Linked DNA regions of Homo sapiens: regions 1 and 2 are each linked to region 3. The links come from fine-mapping of genetic effects on gene expression. A gene starts in region 3. Each other region holds a variant in brackets. All regions are shown on one strand. Distances are from middle to middle.

The links.
Region 1: its variant is fine-mapped to the expression of ELAPOR1 in whole blood (TOPMed, PIP above 0.99).
Region 2: its variant is fine-mapped to the expression of ELAPOR1 in whole blood (INTERVAL, PIP above 0.99).

What each region holds. Positions count from the first base shown.
Region 1 is chr1:109,183,333-109,190,988 of GRCh38, reverse strand. ELAPOR1 (endosome-lysosome associated apoptosis and autophagy regulator 1) reads right to left here. Exons shown (of 22, transcript NM_020775.5): 8 at 5,856-5,944; 9 at 2,635-2,812; 10 at 1,795-1,923; 11 at 1,307-1,397. Among named protein-coding and RNA genes, the nearest start is that of SARS1, 27 kb to the left of the region's middle. The variant A/G (reference allele first, on the strand shown) is at 3,100.
Region 2 is chr1:109,160,164-109,167,819 of GRCh38, reverse strand. ELAPOR1 (endosome-lysosome associated apoptosis and autophagy regulator 1) reads right to left here. Exons shown (of 22, transcript NM_020775.5): 2 at 5,806-5,926; 3 at 3,129-3,321. Among named protein-coding and RNA genes, the nearest start is that of ELAPOR1, 50 kb to the right of the region's middle. The variant T/C (reference allele first, on the strand shown) is at 3,562.
Region 3 is chr1:109,109,780-109,117,435 of GRCh38, reverse strand. It overlaps ELAPOR1 (endosome-lysosome associated apoptosis and autophagy regulator 1), which reads right to left and starts at 3,321. Exons shown (of 22, transcript NM_020775.5): 1 at 3,100-3,321. The coding sequence starts at 3,252. It overlaps CFAP276 (cilia and flagella associated protein 276), which reads left to right and starts at 4,689. Exons shown (of 5, transcript NM_001245025.3): 1 at 4,689-4,837. The coding sequence starts at 4,757. RefSeq lists a silencer at 3,500-3,569.

The sequences.
Region 1 (7,656 bases), 74 kb before region 3:
CAGGCCCAGTGAATCAGAATCTGCATGTTAATACGATTCCCAGGCGATTCGTGTGCACATTTATGTTTGAGAAGCACGTCTATCATAAGACTGTAAATTGTTGACATTTACTCAGCAGCTGTCTCTCCAGCACTGGGGAGCTTTGCCGGGGTTAAAGGAGCAGAATTTGTGATCCAGCAAAGTCCTCCGTTTGGTCCTACTTTTGGGAAAGAGAGAGCCATGCCCAAGCGGGCTGGGGTAGTAGTGGGGATGGGGGATGAGGCAACACTTTACTATGACGATCAGATTTGCAAATTGGAAAGTACTTTTTGAATGTTATTCCAAAAAAAGCCTAAAAAGTTTGCTCACCTTGCAAACACAGGCTTCATTCATCTGGCTAGCTCTGAGTAATGTGTGTTAAGGGAAGGCAAACTGAGCAACATCCCAGGGATGGGAAGCAGGGACCTCGAAGAAGGAAATGAAGGTGTCAGACTGGCACTAGGGAAGCATATTCAGTGCCTGCTTCTTATCTTTAGAGCACATATGGGCAGAAGAGTTCACTTTGGCCTTGGAAATTCATTCACGGCTTTCCTTTTGGCTTTAGCCATTTGCCTGAATTCTGAGGACCTCCAGTTCTCAGCTTATCTCTATGCAGCTGTGTTAACCAGCGGGCTGGAAAAGCCATCTGAACCTCAGTTAGTCTTAAATCACACACTGTTTTTATGGATGAGGGGCCCGAAGCCTGAACAGGTGAAGTGACTTTTCCTAAGGTCGCACGGCCAGTAAGCGGCAAAGCACAAGTGCCCTGTCTTCCAGTCTGGTGTTCCTTCCACCACACCACACTGCCAGGAGGTGTGTGTGTGTGTGTGCGTGTTTGTTTGTTTGTTTAGTGGGAAACAAATTTCGTGTTGCCCTAGGTCTTCCTGGGATATGGGGACAAATACAGTAAGAATAATCCTTCCCAATCTTCTTGCCCCAAATAAAGATGAACTGTCTATGGGCATTTCTGACCCCATTATTTTTTATTTTTATTTTTTTTCTAATCTTAAGTGATGCTGTGAGGAGGAAGAATTTGAATAGCACGTGACTAATGGCTGGGAGAAGCTATACGGGAGAGAGAGCAGTCGGTAAATCAACATGGGCAGCAACTTGAAAAACGTGATAGCATTGGGTTACCTCGGTCAAACTGTACCCTCTGTTCTCAACTGACATTTGAAATGAAATGAAACACAACCCCGGAAGCCCTCTCCTCTACAATATTCCAAAATACGTGGGATTCGGATATGGCCAAGCTGGCCTGGACTCCCCTGGGCTTTGGATTCCTCACCTAAATCCTGGCACAACCAGAGTGAGAATCATGAAGTCATTGTCTGAGGCTCCAGCAGCTGTGTAAATGTGATCACCAGCCACCTCCCAGCCTGAAAAGGAAAGAGGAGAGTTAATGCCTTGTGCTCTTGGGTGCAAGGCAAATGTGCACCCAGATGACACTCTGGAAGGGAGGTTTGACACCATCTTTTGAGGCGCCCAGAACCACCACTGAACATGAACCGTGTTACTTATCCTGCCACTTTGGTCAAAAACCCTGAAGCTCTCAGAGCAAGACCTTTGAAGTGCACGCTCATGTTTCTAGCTCTGTTCCTTCCTCTAAAGCTGTCTTGGCAGAACATATGTCCATGAGGAGTGGAACTTTCAAGGGAATGCATGACATGGTTAGCTTATTTTTCTCAGACATCACTATTATGAAGAAATGTGAAGTTGGAAGAACTGAGGGTGTGCAGGGAGCTGACAGCTCATGGCACAGGGAGAGGCAATTACCTGTCATGCCCTTGTACTCGAAGTTGATCCCACTGAGAACGGTCGTTTCCATGTTTGTGGGCAGCGTGTTCCACCATTTGTATTCAAATCCCACAGCAGGTTCAGTCCCTGCAGGGCAGCGGGTACAGTCTGGGGAACCACAAACAAGATCCATGCATTCAGTGGGAAGGCTGCAGTCACTCTGACTGGAGCTGCTGCCACACAGACAAGTTGCAACAGTAGCGGGCAGCCCAGAAGCCTGGCTGCTGAGTACTGCTGCAGGAAGTTGTATCAAGTTGACTCAAAAACATTCTGACAATGTATTTAACTCAAGATGTAAACACTGAGCCTTCATTCCAATATGCCAACCATCCTATTTGCCCACCCCAATTTCCATTTCAAAACTTAAATGTACCTTCTAGTCTGATACATATAGTTCATATTATTGTCATATTATCATTAAATGCTTTCATTTTAACAGGTACTCAAATCCCCCCAAGGCAGCATGGCTTATAGGTTTTGGTTGTGTGGGGTTGGTCATCCCAGCCCTGTAAGCCTAGTCAGCATCTCTGCCATATGCTGGAAGCCCTGCTTTGAGGATTGGGCACCTTCAGTCCTGAGTCACATTTGCAGTTGGAGCAAGGAGGAAGGAAGGCAGCCTCAAGTATGACTCTGACCTGCAGACGAGGCCAGCCCTGACCTCTCTTCTCCTGAATTTAGTCCTCAAAGGTGGCCTGGTCCTTATTCCTTACTGCCTCCCTTGGAAGGGCAGAGTCTGCATTCAGCTGGCCACTGTTAGTGCCCACACAGCCCACCCACACAGTCGATGTGCTGCAGAGAGTGGGGTGGTGAGGAGGTTACCTGAGCCATTGGAGTAGGAACCATATGGGCAGGGCTGGCAGGTGCTGTTGTTGGTTTTGAAGAAGCCTGGGTTGCAGGGTGGGCAGTGGGTCTTCACACCAGAGGCAGGCAGCTTCACTGCCCCCTCAAGGTCCTCGCTACAGATTTTCGGCTTGGCCCATTTGTACATGAGTTGTGTCTGCAGAAATGGATTAAGCACAACTCAGCCTGTGTGAGATTTAGGACATCTTTGGGACTCTACCTTGAGGATAGGGGCTGGGGGCAGAGATCCAGATTCTGGGCCAGGTAAGAGCTCCTCTGGGGTGGGGAACTTTGTGTGGCTCACGGATGTATCCCAAGCACCTAGCCCAGTGCCTGAGTCATGGTTGTGTTCAATCACTATCTGCCAAATGAATGTTGCCTGGGTGACAAGGAATAGCTCTAATGAAGACTTTATGACAGAGAATGTGGGACCAGTTGTCTTAG[A/G]GAAAGCTCCGATTCCACTGTAGAATCTTATTGCTACCAAGGTCACAGGAAAAGCAGCTGGTGAAAATCCCAGAACACAGAAAGGCACAAGGGTGGAGGTGGCTCAGATGTCCCCCGGGGACTGAGGGGGTGGCTGAGATGTCCCCACTTATTTTTTGAGTGGTACATTCTTTGCTCTTTTATTTATTGGGTAAATCCTAATGCATCTATGTGCCAGACCTGGTGTCTCAGAGATGAATGAAACATGGCCCCTGCATTGGGTACAGAAGTGGAGATGACCCGCAGGAGACCCCGGCTGAGTCAGGGGTGAAGGTGGGCAGCTCCATTCTTCCCATGTGGCCCTCAGATCGAGTCACAGACAAAAACGTGCCCTTATAGGTTGAACTGAGGGGTTGATGAACATGATCTGTGCAGATACCATACATATGAAAAGAAGGATGAATAAGGCCTCTGTCCATATTTTTCAAGATAAGAAACAAGTCCTTAAGGAGGGACACAGACTGCCTTAACTGATGGGGAGCCCTGGGCTCCTCCTTCCCCTGCTCAGCTCGGCCCTCTTCCCTGCGGAGGGCTGCGACAGCCAGAGCCCCAGGCTTGAACCTCACCTGCCTCCTGTGAGTCTCAGGGAGAGGAGAGTCCTAGGAGCTGGCAAACTGTCTCGGGCCAGCTCTTGGAGCAGCACATTCACTGACCCCAATGGATGGGCCATCCTGGTCCCTGAGAAACAACTGAGGCACAGCCAAGGTCAGAAATGTAATCATAGGAGCCAGCTCGAGGTGTGTCCCTTGATTTTAAAATACTGTTCAGAAGACAAACTCAATCACCAGACTGAGCAGAACCAGTGCGGGAATGAGGCACAAAGCAGAAGTCTGCAAGGAACAGCTGGGGAATGCATGTTCATGCGCACTCCTGAAAGCACACGCTTCAGTGCTCCTCCTCTGAGCTGGGCCTTGGCTGTGCTGCAAGGCGGGAACACAGGCTTTGGTCTGACCCAGCATCTAAAGGCCCCGGCAGTGGTCAGGCCAAGGCAGACACCCGGGCTTTCAGGCAGCAAGCACGGTACTGACCCAGAAGGCCTTGGCGTGAGCCCAGGGAGGGAAGAGAATGGGGCAGAAGGGAGGAAAGACAGCCACATTCAGTCACATGTTATGAACAGGAGGGAGAAGAGCAGCAGGATTAATTGTCTGCCTTTTATTAGTGAGTTGGCTGAGACCAAGAAAATGAAAATAAATGTTCACAAGGTCATACAGAATACCAGACACCACAGAACTGAGTCTAAGGTGCAACTGACAAGACACAGCCATTCTCTCTTGGCTGCTGGAGAAGGGGATGATGCCCCAAATACGTGGGGGAGGTGGTGTTGGTAAGAGATGACTGTGCAAAATATTCATTGTTAAGGACCAGACTTTAACCCATGCTTAGTTAGGAAAGGGAGAATTCAGTCAGCCGCCCAGCCAGCAAATGTTTATGCTCCCTAAGAGCCAAGCATCATGCTTAGTGCTGAGTGCAGAATGCCCAACTCCTAGTTCTATCCTCTTGAGAATCTCTAGCTTAGGGATACAGACAGCTCAGCCAGATCCTTCTCCGTGCACCTCAAGCCCTTCCCTGCTCACTTACACTGTTTCTCCACCCACCTGGCCCAGCTGCCGCCTCCTCTCCTGCTGTGTCTGCTGCCTGGAAAGCTCCACGGCTCCTCCCTCATCTCCTTCAGGTCTCTGCTCAAATGTCACCTCCTGAGAGGACATCCCTACCCTTCTAAAATAGTGGCACCACCCTCCTTCATTCTCTCTCTCCTAATCCTGGTTTTTTTTTTTCCTTCCTACCACTTACTACCATTTGCTATATTATATACCCATTTGTTGTCTATTATCTCTCTCTCCACTCCCTCCCCAACAAGAGTTAAGCTCCATAAGGGCTAGATGTTCCCTCAGTTTTGTTAAGTGATGCATGCCTAGCACCTAGCACCGTGCCTGGCACAGAGTCGCTCCTCGATAAATATTTGTTGACTGTTGAACAAATGGCCTCCTCTGAGAGGCTTTCTCTGCTGCCCCCACCCCAAGTCCTGGTCGCTTCTCTTCTGGGCTCCCCCAGTTCCCTGCACATCCCTCTGGTTGCCTTGACTGGGCCCGTTTTTCTCCTCTCTCCAGCCTCTCATACAGGACTGTGAGCTCCCTGGGGGCAGGAGCTTGTTTCAGTCGTCTCTGACTCCCCAGCCTATAGTGCCAGGCCTGACATATCAGTCAGCCTCAAAAAATGCTTGTTGACTCAGTGACAGTGTAGACTAGGAGGGAAAGTTCTTTTCTGAAGCAGAAAGCCTGGAGGAAAGAGAAGCAGCAGAAACGGAACAAGTCAGACCATAGGCAGGAATCCATTCCCCGTGCCAGCCCACAAAACAGTGCCGAGGGGGTGAGCCTGAAGAGCCCCGGGAGGACATTGTGTACGGACAGGCAGGCTCTGCCGGAGTGGCTCGGCAAATAGAAGAAACCAAGCAAGAGAGAATGAAGTGGGTTTTTGAAACAGAACATATGTGCATAAACAGTGAAACAAACGCTGCAAAAACAGTTTCTGACCGGAAAATGAATGAAGAGGTCTCGTTTTGCCCCCCACCCCACCTAGCCCTAGGGTCACCTCAAAGGTCTGTGGGGTTTTAACTAGTGCCAATGTCATTGACTGCTGAAGTTCCAAATGGTGGCAAACCTCAGGGAGTGGGAGACAGTCCATCTGGGGCTAAGGGGCTCCAAGACTGTACTACCCACCTCTCCGTTGGCATCGCAGGCCGTGTGTGTGTAGAAATAATCTTTGTCTGTGCAAGCTGGGCGCACGTTACAGGAAGAAGATCCTTTCTCTAAATTGCCAAAGCAAGAAGAAATATTTGGAGTTACATAAGAAAGCTGAGCTCCTGGCCTCTTCATGGCCCTGTGACTCCCAAGTCCCTGGGTGCATTGCCACACAAATATTGCCGGAAGTAGAAAATCCTGCACACTCACCCTTCCCCTTGTCTCAATAGTGTCATTTCCAGTTCCCCAACCCTGCTCAAGCTTCCCTTTGCACCTGTTCCAGGTGCTGATGAGAAACCACTGTTTGCCGCTTCCCGTCCCCCGCCCCATGGGGCAAGGGAGGGAGAAGTGGCCTGGCCAAAGGACCAGCAAGGAGGGTAGACGGAAACAGCTTCTTGCAGGTTAACCACTGCCAACCTAAGTTCCCTGAAACCTGGGGAGGTTCAGAGAGTTCACCATCTTCCAGGTGCCTTAGTGTCTTGACTCTGGGTGTGGTTTTTCTACTCCTGAAGTGTTGAAGTAAAACATGATTTTGCTTTCATACTCATTCCAAGCCTTTCTATGAATGTTCTAATATATGCCTAGAATGAAGGCCTTCCACCTTGGAAATTTCCTTTTCTTCATGCAATCATTCTACACAAACCAGGTTTGTAATTTCCTTGGACTCCACCTAACACATAAGGTTCTTCCCACTTGCCTCAACCCAAGCATCCCAACACTATCTTTATTATTATTATTATTGAGATGGAGTTTCACTCTTGTTGCCCAGGCTGGAGTGCAGTGGCACGATCTTGGCTCACTGCAACCTCCGCCTCCCAGGTTCAAGTGATTCTCCTGCCTCAGCTTCTTGAGTAGCTGGAATTACAGGCATGAGTCACCATGCCTGGCTAATTTTGTATTTTTAGTAGAGACGGAGTTTCTCCATGTTGGTCAGGCTGGTCTCGAACTCCTGACTTCAGGTGATCTGCCCTCCTCGGCCTCCCAAAGCGCTGGAATTACAGGGGTGAGCCACCGTGCCCGGCCTCTTTATTATTATTTTATTATTGTTATTTTTTAGAGACAGAGTCTTGTTCTGTTGCTGAGGCTGGACTGCAGTGGTACAATCTTAACTCACTGCAGCCTGGAACTCCTGGGCTCAAGCGATCCTCCCGCCTCCCGCACCAGCCCAACACTATCTTTAACTCTTGATTTATACCTAATGAAAAATGTTAACTGCTGGGCATGGTGGTTCATGCCTGTAATCCCAGCACTTTAGGATCTCTTGAGCCCAGGAGTTCAAGACCAGCCTGGGCAACATAGCAAACCCTGTCTCTACAAAAAATACAAAAATTAGCCGGGCGTGGTGGTGCAGGCCTATAGTCCCAGCTACTTGATGTTGAGGCAGGAGAATCACTTGAGTCCAGGAGGTTGAGGCTGCAGAGAGCCATGATCATGCCATTGCATTCTAGCCTGGGCAATGGAGAGAGACTCTGTTAGGAAGGAAGGAAGGAAGGAGGGAAGGATGGAAGGAAGGAAGGAAGGAAGGAAGGAAGGAAGGAAGGAAGGAAGGAAGGAAGGAAGGAAAAGAAAGAAAGAAGAAAAACGTGAACTATCAGTTTTCTTCTGCTCTCTGCATGTTCTCCTCCTTTCAATGTTAGCTCTGCTTTAACCCTGTGAACCTCTGGATAGTGAGAACTACTTCTATGAATTCATTTTTTAATTTTATTTTTTTCATTATTTCATCATAGGGTTTGTTTTCTTTTCTCTCTCTCTCTCTTTTTTTTGTTTTTTTTTTTTTTTT
Region 2 (7,656 bases), 50 kb before region 3:
CTGGGCAACATAAGTGAAACCGTGTCTCTAGAAAAATAAGAAGTTAGCCAGGTGTGGTGGCATGAGCCTGCAGTCCCAGCTACGCGGGAGGTTGAGGTGGGAAGATGGCTTCAGCCCGGGGAGGTTGAGGCTGCAGTGAGCTGTGATTGCGCCATTGCACTCCAGCCTGGGTGACAGAGTGAGACCTTGTTTCTTAAAAAAAAGAAAAAAGAAAGATGAATCTGGCTGCTGAGTGGACAGGCCTGGAGGAGGCTGGGAATGGAAGCAGGAGATGAGCTTGGAGTCTCTTGAGGCAGAGCAGGCAGGATTTGGGTAGCTGCACAGCTGAATAGGAAAGCCAAATACTTGCGCTCTAGGTATTAGCTCAATTATTGCCTTTCTGAGGGATGATGGGGAAACCACAAAAGCTCTCCAGATGGCCATTTCCTCTCCATTGACAGAGAAATATCCTCTCCCTCCCTCCCCGGGATGTCGTGGGATGCCTTAAGATGCAGGCCCTGAAATAGTCCGTGCGGTGGAAACACAAGTTGTTATTAACCCACCCACATCCTGCCTCTCTGAGAGATAATGATTTCTGGACTCTCGGTGCAGTCCCCAGAGAGAGAAGAAATCCTTCCTTTACATGGGTAGGAATTGACTGAGCCATGTCTGCACCTTGTCCAGGGCCTAATGACATTCTCAGTTAGGACTCAAATGGGAGTTGGTTGTCTTAACCCACACATTCCCGCTCCTTCCAGCTTTAAAGCTCTCTAGCTTTATCTCTGCCTCCAGTATTGTCATGCTAATGAATCTGACACACCAAGTTGAACTCTAAAATAACATAACATTAAAATTGGACTACAGATTAAATAGCCACTGCTTGGCTTAGACAAGATTTAAGTATAGGAATGGGAAACATTGCTCCCGGTTTTTAGAAATCCAAGTGTAATACAATTCTTGAGTCCTTCTTATCCATTTGATTGTTTGGGTATAAGTGAAACTTTCACTTGCTTTCCTCCTGTATTCACTGTCCATATTTAATAAGGAACAATATGGCTGCCTTTCACATCCTCATATCCCCCCACTTTCGCTCCCTAGGACCCAGTGTTGCCTTGCCCATAATAAATGTTATTTGAATGTGGCATTATGGAGCAGTGGAAGCTTGGGTTCGAATTTCAATCTCGCCGGCTGTAAACCGGATAACAAAGAGCAGGTCATAACCTTGCTGAGCTTCCAGTTCCTCGTCTCTGTAATAGAAATAGTAATGCCTATTTCACAAGGTTCTTGTGAGAATTAGAGAAAATAATATATGTAAAGCATCCAGAATAGTGCCTGGCCTACAAAAGACATATCTGAAATAGATATCCAGTTCTCCAAGCACCCTGGACTGAGCTTTCCAAGAAAATTTGCTAGTCATTGGGGTCTCACAGCATTTGGAAGATTTCAGCCAGCACTGGGCAAAGGCTAGGCAGAATCAGTTTCAGAAGTTAGCAGCCAAGGTGGCCCATGCCTGTAATCCCAGCACTTTGGGAGGCTGAGGCAGGTGGATCACCTGAGGTCAGGAGTTTGAGACCAGCCTGGCCAACATGGTGAAACCCCATCTCTACTAAAAAAATACAAAAAAATTAGCTGGGTGCGGTGGCTCACGCTGTAATCCCAGCACTTTGGGAGGCCGAGGCAGGTGGATCACGAGGTCAGGAGATCGAGACCATCCTGGCTAACACGGTGAAACCCCATCTCTACTAAAAATACAAAAAATTAGCTGGGCGTGGTGGCGGGTGCCTGCAGTCCCAGCTACTCGGGAGGCTGAGGCAGGAGAATGGCGTCAACCCGGGAGGCAGAGCTTGCAGTGAGCGGAGAGGGCACCACTGCATTCCAGCCTGGGTGACAGAGCGAGACTCCATCTCAAAAAAAAGAAAAAAAAAAAATTAGCCGGGCATTGTGGCACACACACCTGTAACCCAGCTACTCAGGAGGCTGAGGGAGGAGAAACACTTGAACCTGGGAGCTGGGGCTTGTGGCGAGCCAAGATGGCACCACTGCACTCCAGCCTGGGCGACAGAGTGAGACTCTGTCTCAAAAAAAAAAAAAAGAAGAAGAAGAAGAAGTTAGCACCCAAGCCGGGAAGATACCCAAGCTTTGCATATTGTGTTCCAGTCAAGCTGAGAAAGTATATTGGCTGATCTGAAATTCCGTGGTGGAAATCCGGTTGGTTTTTTTGGTTTTTGTTTTTGTTTTTCTTTTTTTTTTTTTTTTAAGACGGAGTTTCACTCTTGTTGCCCAGGCTGGAGTGCAATGGTGCGATCTCAGCTCACTGCAACTTCCGCTTCCCAGTTCAAGCGATTCTCCTGCCTCAGCCTCCCGAGTCGCTGAGATCACAGGTATGCACCACCAGGCCTGGCTAATTTTTTGTATTTTTAGTAGAGACGGGGTTTCACCATGGCCAGGTTGGTCTTGAACTCCTGACCTCAAGTGATCCACCCGCCTCGGCCTCCCAGAGTGCTGGGATTACAGGCGTGAGCCACCGCGCCCTGCCGGTTTTTGTTTTTCAATGAGACAGGGTCTTGCTCTGTTATCCAGGGGTACAGTGGTGCGGTCATAGCTCAGTCTAACCTTGAACTCCTAGGCTCAAGTTATCCTCTTGCCTCAGCCTCTCGAGTAGCTGGGACTACGGACATGCACCACCACACCTGGCAAATTTTTTAACTTTTTGTAGAGACAGGGGTCTCGCTATGTTTCCCAGGCTGGTCTCAAACTCTTGGCCTCAGGCAATCCTCCCACATTAGCCTCTCAAAGTGCTGGGATTACAGGGGTGAGTCACTGTGCCCAGCTCCAATTGGGTTTTGTTTTAAATAGACTGGGCCATTTAACCCTTGCCCCCCTTGTCCACTCTCTTATTTCCTCATGTTTTTTACCTCCCACAAATGCCTGTCCATCACTGGTAAGTTTAGGCCAGTAAGAGTGGGCCAGGCAGAGTCACATCCACTGGTCTTGCGGGCACAGCTGCAGGCCTCACCCTGGCAGCCTGGCTTCCTCTTCCCTCCATCCTCCCTGCCCAGCCTGAGGGGCAGCGGAGGAGGCTGTCCAGTGTGCCCTGTAGCCCCTTACCCAGTGGGCTGGGGGTGGGGTGGGGGTGTGTGCAGACTCACGAAGTACAGTTCCCGGTGGACTCAGCAGCACTGTCATCCAGCTCCATGTTGGCTGAGAGGCTGGCAAAGCCATGGGGCAGCTCATCCCACTCATCAAACCGAATGCCTGTGCCGAGGGAGTAGCGGCCCTCAGCGCATGGCTTACATGACTGGTCCTTCATATCCAGAAACTCCCCGGCGTTGCAGGAGAAGGCTGGAAAACAGGGCAGAGACAAGGTGGGGCAGTGAGGTCACTGCAGCCCCAGAAGTGAATGGGCTGCGAGCAGCTGAAGGGAGGAGCGCTGGGTTGGGGTCTAGGAGTTTGGCCCACTAAGATTTAGGGCCATGGCATTTACTGTGTGATTTGATTTTATTTTTCTTAAAAAAATTTTTTTTTCAGCAGTGATATTCCTTGCTATGTGTCATTCTATTTGTATGGAACGGCCAAAAGAGG[T/C]GAAGCCATAGAGACAGAAAGTAGATTTGTGGTTGCCAGGGGCTGTGGGGAGGGGCCTGGGGAGAGATTGCTAATAATATGAGGTTTCTTTTTAGGATGATTAAAATGTGAAATGAGAGTGATGATGGTTGCTGTGAATATTCTAAAAACCACTGAATTTTATCCTTAAAGGAATGAATTTCATGGCATATAAATTATATACCAATAAAGCTGTTATAAAAAAAATAGATCTAGGGCCACGGATGCTCTGCCTTGCTGTGGGACTTTGGGCTTGTTCCTGGCACTCGTTTCCTTTGGAGAGGTGCCCTGACCATTCTGAGAGCTCTCTGGTGAAGAAGATGCCAAGGTCTCTTGTGCTGACCCCTCTGAATGACACATGGCCCTTCAGCCTTGAATTTCTCCCTTGAGCCTCTGGCCTCTGCCTTTCTGGTTGTACTGCCACCATGCTAGGTGGAATTCTCATGACCTGTTAACTCAATCATTGCAATATCCTCCTAACTAGTTCCCTATTCTTATTTTTGCTCATTCTGTGGTCAGAGGTACCTTTCTAAAACAGATGTGATCAGGCACAGTGGCTCATACCTGTAAACCCAACACTTTGAGAGACCAAGGCAGGAGGATCACTTGAGCCCAGGAGTTTGAGGCCAACCTGGGCAACACAGTGAGACCCTGTCACTACCAAAAAAAAAAATGTTTAAATTAGCTGGGAGTGGTCGCGTGTGCCTGTAATCCTAGCTACTCAAAAGGCTGAGGTGGGAAAATTACTTGAGCCCAGGAGGTCGAGGCTACAGAGCTATGATTGCACCTCTGTACTTCAGCCTAGGAAACAGAGTGAGACCTTGTCTTTAAAAAAATAAAAAGTAAAACACGTATGTACTATTATTCTCCTTATTTTAAAAATAAACAGGCACTCCCTTTTGGTTCTAGAATTATGCTCTTGGCCTGGCATTCAAAGTTTTCCACGATTTCCCTGCAGCCTAACTTCCCAGCTTGACCTCCCACTACAAATCTTTTTTCACCTCAACTCCATCCATCACCTTCTCTGTGTTGCCTCTACCCTGGACCACAAGCTCTTCCTCAAATGTGTCACTCTTCATCCACGTCTAAACTTTTGCTCAAGTGGCCCTCCCAGCTATGCCTGATCCCTAAATATTCGTAACTCTCATTCTTTCTCATATCATATATGTCTGCCACCCACTAGGCTCTGCGCTCCTCTGGGGATGGCTGGCTCAGTGACTGGCACAGACTGGGAGCTTCATGAATGTTTCTGAAACAATGAGTGAATGAATGAATGTCTGCACTTTCCACCACCCTAAGCTTCTGAAAGCAGAGAGTGTGCCTTATTTGTCTTTGCAGTTCACACTGCATGTGCACATCATGGTGCTAACACATAGTGGGACTCACTGAAGTCAGCAGAGTTCAATGAAGATGGCTCATTTGTTTCCACTAGTCACACCTCAGTTCTGCTCAGGTCTCAGCAATATCCAGTCATTAATTTAACAAGTATTTATTTGCTCACTTACTCAACCAGGCACTGTACTAAGCTGATTTTAGAATTTAAATATCTTCAAACTCCTTTCCAACTCTTCAGATAATTCCTTAAATCTAGTGCCTGGTTTTTCTTGTTATTCCCTTTGCATTCCTAAAAGAATAATGCAGGGGAAACAGCTGCCAATTGTAGAAAAGTTGTGACTGCAGAGTCACAGAGGCGGGTGCTGGGGCTGCGGCAAGCCACTGCCTTTCCTATTGCACAATCAGACCCACAGTCAAGAAGATTCTTGTCTCCTGAAGTGATGCCTGGAGCATTTTAAAGGACGTCTCTGCAGAAACTTAGCCTCTCTGACTTCCTTTTTAAGAATGAAAGCAAATCTCAATCTTGCCTAATGACTGATTGTGGCTGGTGAGTGAGTGTAGATTGGAGAGACATACAAGGCAAAAATGAAAATGTATGCAAACAGAAAAGAATATCTGAGTGCACACAGCTGGCATTGCTTATGCTGTATCCACTGATGGGATTTAAATTCCTTTAAAAAATGAAAGCAAATTCAGATATCCAGTTTGCATTCATGAAATACTTCTGCACCAAATCTCATAAGGGTCTGGGATGTGGGGACTAATTGGGGAAAAGATCTGATTCCTTAATGCAGCTGCTCTGCCAGGAAGGGCCCAGATTGGATGGCAGGAGACTTGGGGGAGAGACCAAAGCTGAGTGACAGGGAGGCCCTGAGCAGGATAGCTGCTTACAGCACTCGGTGCCCTTGATGGGGTCAGGCAGGCTGGTGCACAGGCCCGGGGTATGCGGCACGGCGACCCTCCACCTGGAACCCGTGCTGTCACACGCCGTGTACTCATAGTGGTACTCAGACTGCAGGGGAGAGAACAGTGGGCGAAATGTGCATTAGCAGTGATCAAACATTAACAGCTTCCCACCCACTTCCCAGCACCATGGCTACTGATGCTCATCCTCTCAGAAATGGGCCCTGGGACCCCGGGCAGGGAGCTGATGATTATGAACCGAGTACAAGAACTACAATGATTTGGATCATTCCCTTCCACCCAGCCATGGTCTAGTCCCTAGAAATCATTTTTGTGTGTGACTCTCTTTGTTGTTATGTTTAAGTAGTGTCCTTATGGAGCAGAGGAACGTGGGAAAGGTAACTAAGGAACAGGCTAGAAATAGGTGGAATTTTTCTTATTCCAAAGTGTAGAATTTATGAACGAGGACATTCTAAATGGAAGGATGTTCTAAATGGAAGCCTTAGTCCACAAAAAATTTACAAAGGCTCCTCACAGAAGTGGTATGTATTTCTATTTCCCTGTGTTTCTTTTTTTTTTTTTTTTTTTTTTTTGAGACGGAGTCTCGCTCTGTCGCCCAGGCTGGAGTGCAGTGGGATGATCTTGGCTCACCGTAACCTCCGCCTCCTGGGTTCAAGCGATTCTCCTGCCTCAGCCTCCCGAGTAGCTGGGACTACAGGCGAGTGCCACCACGCCAGGCTAATTTTTGTATTTTTAGTAGAGACGGGGTTTCACCATGTTAGCCATGCTGGTCTCAAACTCCTGACTTTGTGATCCACCTGCCTTGGCCTCCCAAAATGCTGGGATTACAGGCATGAGCCACCACGCCTGGCCCTATTTCCCTGTGTTTCTTATGCTCCTTTCCACTCAGAAAGACTATGAATTCCCAATTGCATTTTATGAAAATATATTTGGCCGAGGCAGGTGATGTGCTCTCACTTGAGCCTGTTCATCCCTAATTTGTCTGTGCAATGGGAAACTCATAGTTTAATTGTTTTACCTGAGCTAAAAATAAATGGAATAACAACAAAACAACCAAATCAAGCATTAAGTAAAACAACAACAACAAACAGTTCCACTCAGAACAAAGAAAACACAATTGATGTGCCAAATGCCCTTAAGCGTTTCTTCCTCCTTTAAATCTGGTAATAAACAACAGACCATGGAATTAGTGATGATTTTGGCTCTGACAAGTATTTTACAATCTACACTTACCTAAAACTATATTCAAGCCCAGAGGTATTTTGTATTACTGTATGCATAAGAAAAATAGAATTAATGTCCCCCTTTAACCCACGTGATAGCCTGATTGCATAACATGTATAACGTCAAGGAGCTAAGACAAAAAATACAAGTTTTGAAGTTTGCTAATCTAATAATGCGTCAGGATCAAAAGGAATAAGCTTTATTTTTGGGGATAGGTAAACACACTGCATTTCATCTATTCCAAGATGCACGCTTTTTCCACATCTAACATCTATGAAATCAAGACGTGTCTTAAAATTGACACAGTAAGGAAGAATTGTGTTATGTTTTAAGGGATAGAGAGCTTTTTCTTTCTTGATGACACATTAAAAAAATGGTGTCTTAGAAGCAGTGGCATTTCAGACTTGTTGCAATATGGTAAAGATGTAGTTTCTTTTCTTTTTTTTTTTTTTAGACAGTCTCTTGCTCTGTCACCCAGGCTGGAGTGCGGTGGCGTGATGATGGCTCACTGTAATCTTGACTTCCTGGGCTCAAGTGATCCTCCCACCTCAGCTTCCCAAGTAGCTGAGACTACAGGAGCCACTACATGCAACA
Region 3 (7,656 bases):
CTGGAGCCTCAGGATAAGGTAGAGCGTGTTAAAGGCAGCTTTCTGCTCCTCTTTGGTTTGATTTGCTTCACTGCACCTTGGGAAATGCTCCTTTGGCTCGCAGTCAGCACTTAGCCTTGGCTAAAGAAACGATTCATGAAAACGAATATCATACAGGATGTTTAGTTCCATTTGTGACCCTGATTATTATAAAACTGTGAGAGGAATGCCAAGCCCCAGCACATGTCCAGCAGTCTAGAACTCCCACTTTGCCACTTCAGTTTAGGCCTCAAGCTAAACCTCTCCGTTTCCTGATTACATCCAGAGGGATGCCTCAGCTTTCACGAACAAGGCTGGAACAATATTATTGTCATTAGGGTCAGCCTTGGCCTGATAAGAGTCCTGCCATCAACACCCAACATCAGCTCACAAGAAATTCGTATGAAGATTAAGAACAGAGAAGAGTGGCTGGGCACAGTGACTCACGCCTGCAGTCCCAGCACTCTGGGAGGCCAAGGCGGGTGGATCACCTGAGGTCAGGAGTTCAAGACCACCCTGGCCAACATGATGAAACCCCATCTCTACTAAAAATACAAAAATTAGCCGGGTGTGGTTGCACATGCCTGTAATCCCAGCTACTTGGGAGGCTGAGGCAGGAGAATTGCTTGAGCCTGGGAGGTGGAAGCTGCAGTGAGCCGAGATCATGCCACTGCACTCCAGCCTGGCCTGGCAACAAAGCCAGACTCTGTCTCACCAAAAAAAAAAAAAAAAAAAAAGAACAGAGAAGAGCTGGTCTACCTTGAATTGGTTTTTCACCATTTGGGGTTGGAAGCCCCCAAACTTGTTTGATCAGTTCATATTGCCAAATGAATACTATAATAATGGGTTTATTCTCTCCCTGATTGTTTTGGAGTTGAGGGTGTTCAATGGCCACTGTTTGCTCAAGGAGAATGTAAACAGGACTTGCTGACGCCTGTGGCAAATGGGCATGCCTCCTAAGCCATTTCCAATCTGGCATGGGGTGTGGATCTAATGGGAAAGAAGCTGAACAGAGAAGGAGGGTGGGTAACTCTCTTTTGTGTTTCCAATGTATTTTCTATTTCAATACTCAAAGCAATCCTTTCTGAGGTAGGTGTTATTTTGATACCCATTCTACAAATCCAAAAACCACGTGGTAAGTAACAGGACTGAAACCCTGGTAGGTTGAGCTCCATAGCTTTCCACTACCTTAAGCTTACACTTTGTGGCAAGACCTTTTGCTTAGGCAAATATTGGTTATTCAAACAGGACCAAAGGCAAAATTCGTACACAAGTTCGAGTTCTCAAGTATCAATATTCTTCCCTTCCTCCAAACCAAGATAATAGAAGTGCTTAATTTCTGAAATGTCTCATATTTTCCATTGTTGACAAAGATCTCAACAAGAATTGGTAGTTAAACTGTATGATTCTTACCTTCCACTCAGGAAACTCCCTTGTTTGATTCTTAGGCAAGTGGGCTTTCTTGGTCTCATTATTTTGGTTGGTTAGACCACAGGCCATCAAGGCCAGTGAGCCAGTCACTGATAAGATCATACTGTTCCCTGCGATCTCTAAAACAGGTCATAATGCGGCTAGGTGGAAATGTAGATGGCCCAGGGCAGGTTGTCATTGGAGCTAATAAAGGTTATCAAAAGTCCCACTCACTGGGGTCACTTATGTCATATTCATGAATCTTCAAAATCAAGTATCTTTATTCACACAAAAATCCTCCCCCCCACACCTGACTTCTTTATGACCTGCTGTGCTGTAGACACAGAACATCTTTATAAGAATTTATCTCCATATGGGATGGAGTTGTTGCCAATCAGTTCACACTAACAATTTATAAAAAATATTCTGGGCTGGGCGCAGTGGCTCATTCTTATAATCCCAGCACTTTGGGAGGCCGAGGTGGGAAGTCGCTTGAGCCCAGGAGTTAGAGACTGGCCGGGGCAGTATATCGAAACCTCATTTCTATTTTAAAACATATATTTTTTAAAGTAAAGAAAATACATCTATATATATATTCTAACCTCTCAAAACCTTAGTCAAGCTTGATATTTGGGATTAAATTTACAGAGCTAGATGCTTGACTTTTTATGAAGTCCTTCACATTTCACAGAAATAACAGAACTTTTATTTTGCCTTCCCCAACGTAGTTCTTGTAAATATCTTATTGTTGCCTCTGCCATATGGTTTCTAAAAAAGTTGCTCAGAGCACAACCAAATATTGTTATTTCAATAACATAGAAATGACTTAGTTTTGTTGCTGCTAGTGCCCTTTTATGTTCCTCCAAGATGACTTTTCAAAAGCTATTTTTGGTTATAAGAGATTGACTACCTATTGTCTGAATTCTGCTTCCAACATATTGGAAATACCTTGAAAAAGACTTTGACATATGTTAAGTCAGAGAAGGAGACTAGAGGTTGGCAGAACACAAGATATTGAAGAACTCAAAATCTGCAAAAAGGTGAGTCGTGTACTGTCAGGTACACTAAACATAGTACGCTGCGGGGAGGCCAAGCTATAAGGAGGAGACACATTTTACAGTCTGCACTAACCGATGTTTAATAAACAAGGAACTAGAGAGCTGGAATCCTATCATCCCTCTCGCACATCTCCCACCTTCACACTCCGTTTTGTGTAGCCATGATAAAACCACTTCGCTCTGATACTTTTTTCTGGCCTTCCTAACTCCTTTCCTCTCCCACTACTCTTCTTTCCTCTTCCTATTTTGCTTCTCTGTGCATAATCTTTTCTTGTCAACCACTTTTAAGGTGAGTTCATCCTAACTGGAAAATAACTCGTCTGCCTCCCTCATTCTGAGTTCAGGTACCCAGGTAGCTCCCCTTCTTGGGGCTGGGACCTTTCTCGCTGAGCTCAGCATCCCAATCTGTGAGGATGATCTATCCGTGAGTCCTCCAATGTGCTGGCCTCCTCATGACGCCAGACTGGCTCCTCTTCCCTCCCCCCACGCCTCATCCCCAAAGAAATCTAAACTCCGTGGCGTCTGAAACTCTCTGCGCCTGGGTCCCCAAGGTCTCCGCCTGGATCCAAGACTTTTGTGACCAAAGCGGGATCGGGTAGGGGGGCGGCAGTACCTCTTTGCAGGCATGAAGCTCCGGTCCCGTTCCCTGGGTCACCTGGAAGGCGGTCCCAGCCCAGAGCAGCAGCCGCCACAGCCGGGGTATGCGCCTCTCAGTTCTTCCCCTGACTCTGGCGGAGAGATGGTGGCTGTGCCCAGGCTCAGCCATAGCGTTGTCCTGAGTGAGCGGCAGTAGCGGCTCAGGTGCTGCGGCTGCTGCTTCTGCTGGCAGAAGGCGGAAAAAAAGGGGAGGGAGGTACACAGGCGGAGGATGCAAGAGGCCAGGCTCGCTTCAGTCACCTCCCTGCGGCTACGCCAACACCGCCCATCCTTCCTCCTCCCTCTGTCCTCTCCTCCTACCCACGTCGCCTTGACAACCGCCTCCTCTCTGGCTCCGCGCGGGTGGGGCAGGGACCACGCGCGCCTCTGCAGCTCACCTGCGGGTCGCCATGGCAGCCGCCGCCGCTGGTGCGCGCGGCGTGGGCGCGGGAGAGCGCGCGCCCGGGGTGCGCAACCGGCCCAACAGGCAGGCCCGGGGCTCGTGTGAAGAACACAGTGGAAGCATCCTCCAAGCCAGCCAACAAATTTCCGTTTTCTACTGCCCTTTCGGGCCAGGGGTTATTTTATGAGCATCTCCGATGTTGCACACGTGGCGTGTGAACCGAGAGAAAGAAGATGGAGAGATCACCCTCCAGACGTCGTCGCCTGGAAGAGGCCCCAGTACGTGTTCCCTCCTACGAAGGCCACTCCTGGAGATCTTACATCCCGCCAAATCCATCCGTGCTTTTACAACCGGCTAGAAGAGAAGCCCTGACACTGTAGTTGATCCGAGTTTAAGCGAGGAGTTTGCCTTAGCCGCAATTTCCCAAGCGCCGCACGTGGGCCTCTCTCTCTCTCTCTCTCTCTCTCTCTCTCTCTCTCTCTCTCTCTCTCTCTTTCTCTCTCTCTCTCTCTCTCTCTGAGACAGGGTCTCACTCTCTCGCCCACACTGGAGTGCAGTGGCGCGATCTCGGCTAACTGCAACCTCCGCCTTCCGGGTTCAAGAGATTCTCCTGGATTAGCCTCCCGAGTAGCTGGGACTACGGGCGCGTGCCACCAAGCCCAGCTAATTTTTTTCCTACTTTTTGTAGAGACGGGGTTTCGCCATGTTGCCCAGACTGGTCTCGAACTCTTGGGCTTAAGCGATCCGCCCGCCTCCGCTTCCCAAAGTGCTGAGATTACAGGCGTGAACCACCGCGCCCGGCCCTCTTTGGTCTCTTGACATCCTCATTCTCTCATGGCTTTGAAAGCCTTTTGTTAGGTGCGAGGGAGAAGGAAATTTCTGGGTCATCTTTCAGGACTTCTTTCCTCAACTGAAGTCTTTTGCAGAAGTCCTGATGGTGAGCAGCCAGCACTTTTCCGCCGAGGCTCAGGAGTGCAATTCCAAGTCTCGGGCCCGCTCAGCGGAACGTTCCCTCTGCAGTCCCCGGAGCTTCCTCCCCAGGGGCCTCCCGTGGTCAGCCGCCAGGTGGCGCCCTCCTCTGAGGGAATTCCTCTGTCATAGATGGCTGGGCAGTTGCCTGGCAACCGAAACCAGCGCTCCAAACAATTGGGACCCGGGATCTTATGCCAGTGAGGCTGTGCTGCGGCTGAGCGGGCCTCCCATCCCTCTTAAAAGAGTTAGGCATTTAGCCATGCCTCCCACCCGGGACCCTTTCCAGCAGCCTACATTAGATAACGATGATTCCTACTTAGGAGAACTGCGGGCTTCCAAGGTACTGTGGTTTCTTGCGCAGATTCCCAGTAGGGTCGCCGGTAGTCTTCTTTCTGTCTGTGTGATGAGCAGAGATGGTAACATAAAGGACTCTGGTGAAGACACTCAGTCGGGTACCAGGGAAGTCTGTTTTCTGCCTGCCTCCCTATCTCCATATTCAAGTCGGCTAACGTTTCAGAGGCGTTTTTGAGCAGAGGAAAGTAGAGTTCTAGTCTAGAGGAACAAGGGGCTCTGGCAGCTCAAATCAATTGTGAGTATAAGTTATGGCAGTGCCCAGGTTCCTTCAAGCTACCCATTTCCCTATTTGGAAGACTGTTCTCTGAAGAGAAATGAGATATGGAGTGGGAGAGAATCCTCTGAAAGCCACCAGAGGTCATGCTTTACACATCTGTGTTCACACTGTCTCTGTCTTCTGGTTAACACCACAATATGTTTGTTATGTGTGTGTTTAGCATGATGGTGGACACTGATTTCGGAACTTAGATGATCTTTTTTCTGGTAGAAGTGATTGGGATATATGAAGTGGTGCACAATAAGATGAATTAAGTGGTGATTGTGGTCTAATAACAATATTGAGAGCCCCTTTTTATTTATTCAATACTTATTTACTATAAGCCAGACACTCTGCTAAACGCCAAGGATATATAAATAAATTAGATGTAGCTTCTGCTGTCAAGGAACTCTAGTAGTAAAGAGAGACCGACAATAGCAAAAATGCTTGCACAATAGCACATGTTGTGACAGAGTTGTGTGCAGGGTGCCGTGAGAACCAGGAACTTAAAGGAAAGCTTCACAGAGCAGATGCATTTTGATGTCCAAATATGAGTTAGGTAGGCCAGGTGAGGGAGTGGATAGAATGTGAGTTAGGAAGAAGGAAACAGGAACCAGATATGCAAGGCAAAGGAAGCAGCAGGTGCAAATACATGGAAAGGAGAGAGAGAATGGCTTATTTGGGGAACTGCAAATAGTCTAGAAGGGCTGGAGTGTAGGCGTGCAATGGAAGCACTCAGAAATCAGAGCTGGAGAGATGCCCTTGGTTGGCTGGGTGTGCTGTGTACACCATGCTAGCTAGCTATGGTTTCATCCTAGGGATGTGAGGAATCATTGTGGGATATTTTTTTTTTTTTGAGACAGGGTCTCCTTGCTCTGTCACCCCAGCTGGAGTGCACTGGTGCAATCTTGGCTTACTGCAGCCTCGAACTCCTGGGCTCAAGCAATTCTCCCACCTCAGCCTCCCAAGTAGCTGGGACTACAGGTGATGCCACCACACCCGGCTAATTCTTATTTTATTTTTTTGTAGAACCAGGATCTTCCTTTGTTGCCCAGGCTGGTCTCAAACTCCTAGCCTCAAGTGATCCTCCTGCTTTGGCCTCCCAAAGTGCTGAGATTACAGGCATGAGCCATGGGTCCCAGCCCCATAGCAGGATTTTAAGTACCACAGTGACACAATCAGATGGGTGTTTTAGGAAGCACAAGTGGCAGCAGACTGGATAGGATGAGAGTGAGACAAGAGGGATCAGCTAGGAGGCAGGTGAGGTGATCTCCAGGAGGAAGAGTAACAGATCTACAGCAGTGCCACAGGGGGTGGTGATCAGGTGCAGATGTGAGAAAGGTGCACAGGGCAGGACTGACAGGACTTGGAGACTGACTGGACATGGGCCCAAGAGAGGAGGTGAGTCTAGGATAGCTGCTGGGTTCCTAACGGTTTAATTCTGAGGTTTCACTGAAATGGGGCATCCTGGGGAAGCAGGTTTGGGGAGAAAGATGTTGAGAAACATCAACTATGTAGATGTTTTTGTAGTGACTGTGGTATATTTAAGTGAAGGTCAATAGTAGGCAACAGGATTGAGAGTTCTGGATTGAAGATGTATGACTGAGCTGTGTATCCGTATGAGCTATGGTACCCATATGGTAGTTGAAGCCATGGAAGGGAATCAGCTCATCCAGTGGATGTGAGCATAAGAAAAGTAAAAATGAGACCCTTGGAGAATAGCACTGCCTAAGGGACAGAGAGAAAGTGGAGCTGAGACAGTAGCTGAGAGATAAGGGCCAGAAATAAGAGGAAAACCCAGAGGAGCTGGGCCCACAGAGCTTGGTGAGGGCATTTGAGGGAATCAGCATTATGGTGCCAGAAACAGCTGAGTTCAAATAAGATCAGGCCTGGAAAGGATCCACCTGACCTGGCCACAGAGATCATTGATAACTAGCAAGAGCAGTTTTAGGGGGTGCTTGAGGCAGAGGCCAGACTGCAGTGAGCTAAAGAGGGTATGGGAATGGTGAGTGAGGAAGTAGAGATAGTAAATATTGACTCCTGAAAAGGTCTGGTTCTGTAGGGAAGGTGACAGGCTGGTAGCTAGACCACGACAAAGAAATGAAGTGAGGCTGGGGTCAGAAGAGAGCGTATGCAGAATGGTACAGGTCTCAGAAGACCAGGGAAGGGTGGGTCTGGGGAGAAAGGGTTATTCTTGAGTAAAAGGGACTTTCCTTTCCCTGAGATGGAAAGAAAGTGGATGTAAAGATGGCATTCATGCTTGACAGTCTGGACTTTCTCAGTGAAAGACAGACTCATCCTTCTGCTGACAGAGATGACGAGGTTTAAGTGGTCTTCAAGGAGAGTGGGAGGAGTGCTGCTCAGGGCCACATCAAAGGACAACTGAGCCTATGCTGGCATCAAATACCTGTAGCTTTCTTTCTTTCATACTTCATTCTTCTCAGTGATAGCACAGTGCCTGATACACACTGTTCAATTAAGGTATGACTCACAGCGGGGCACGGTGGCTCATACCTGTAATTCCAGCAGTTTGGGAGGCTGAGGCAGGT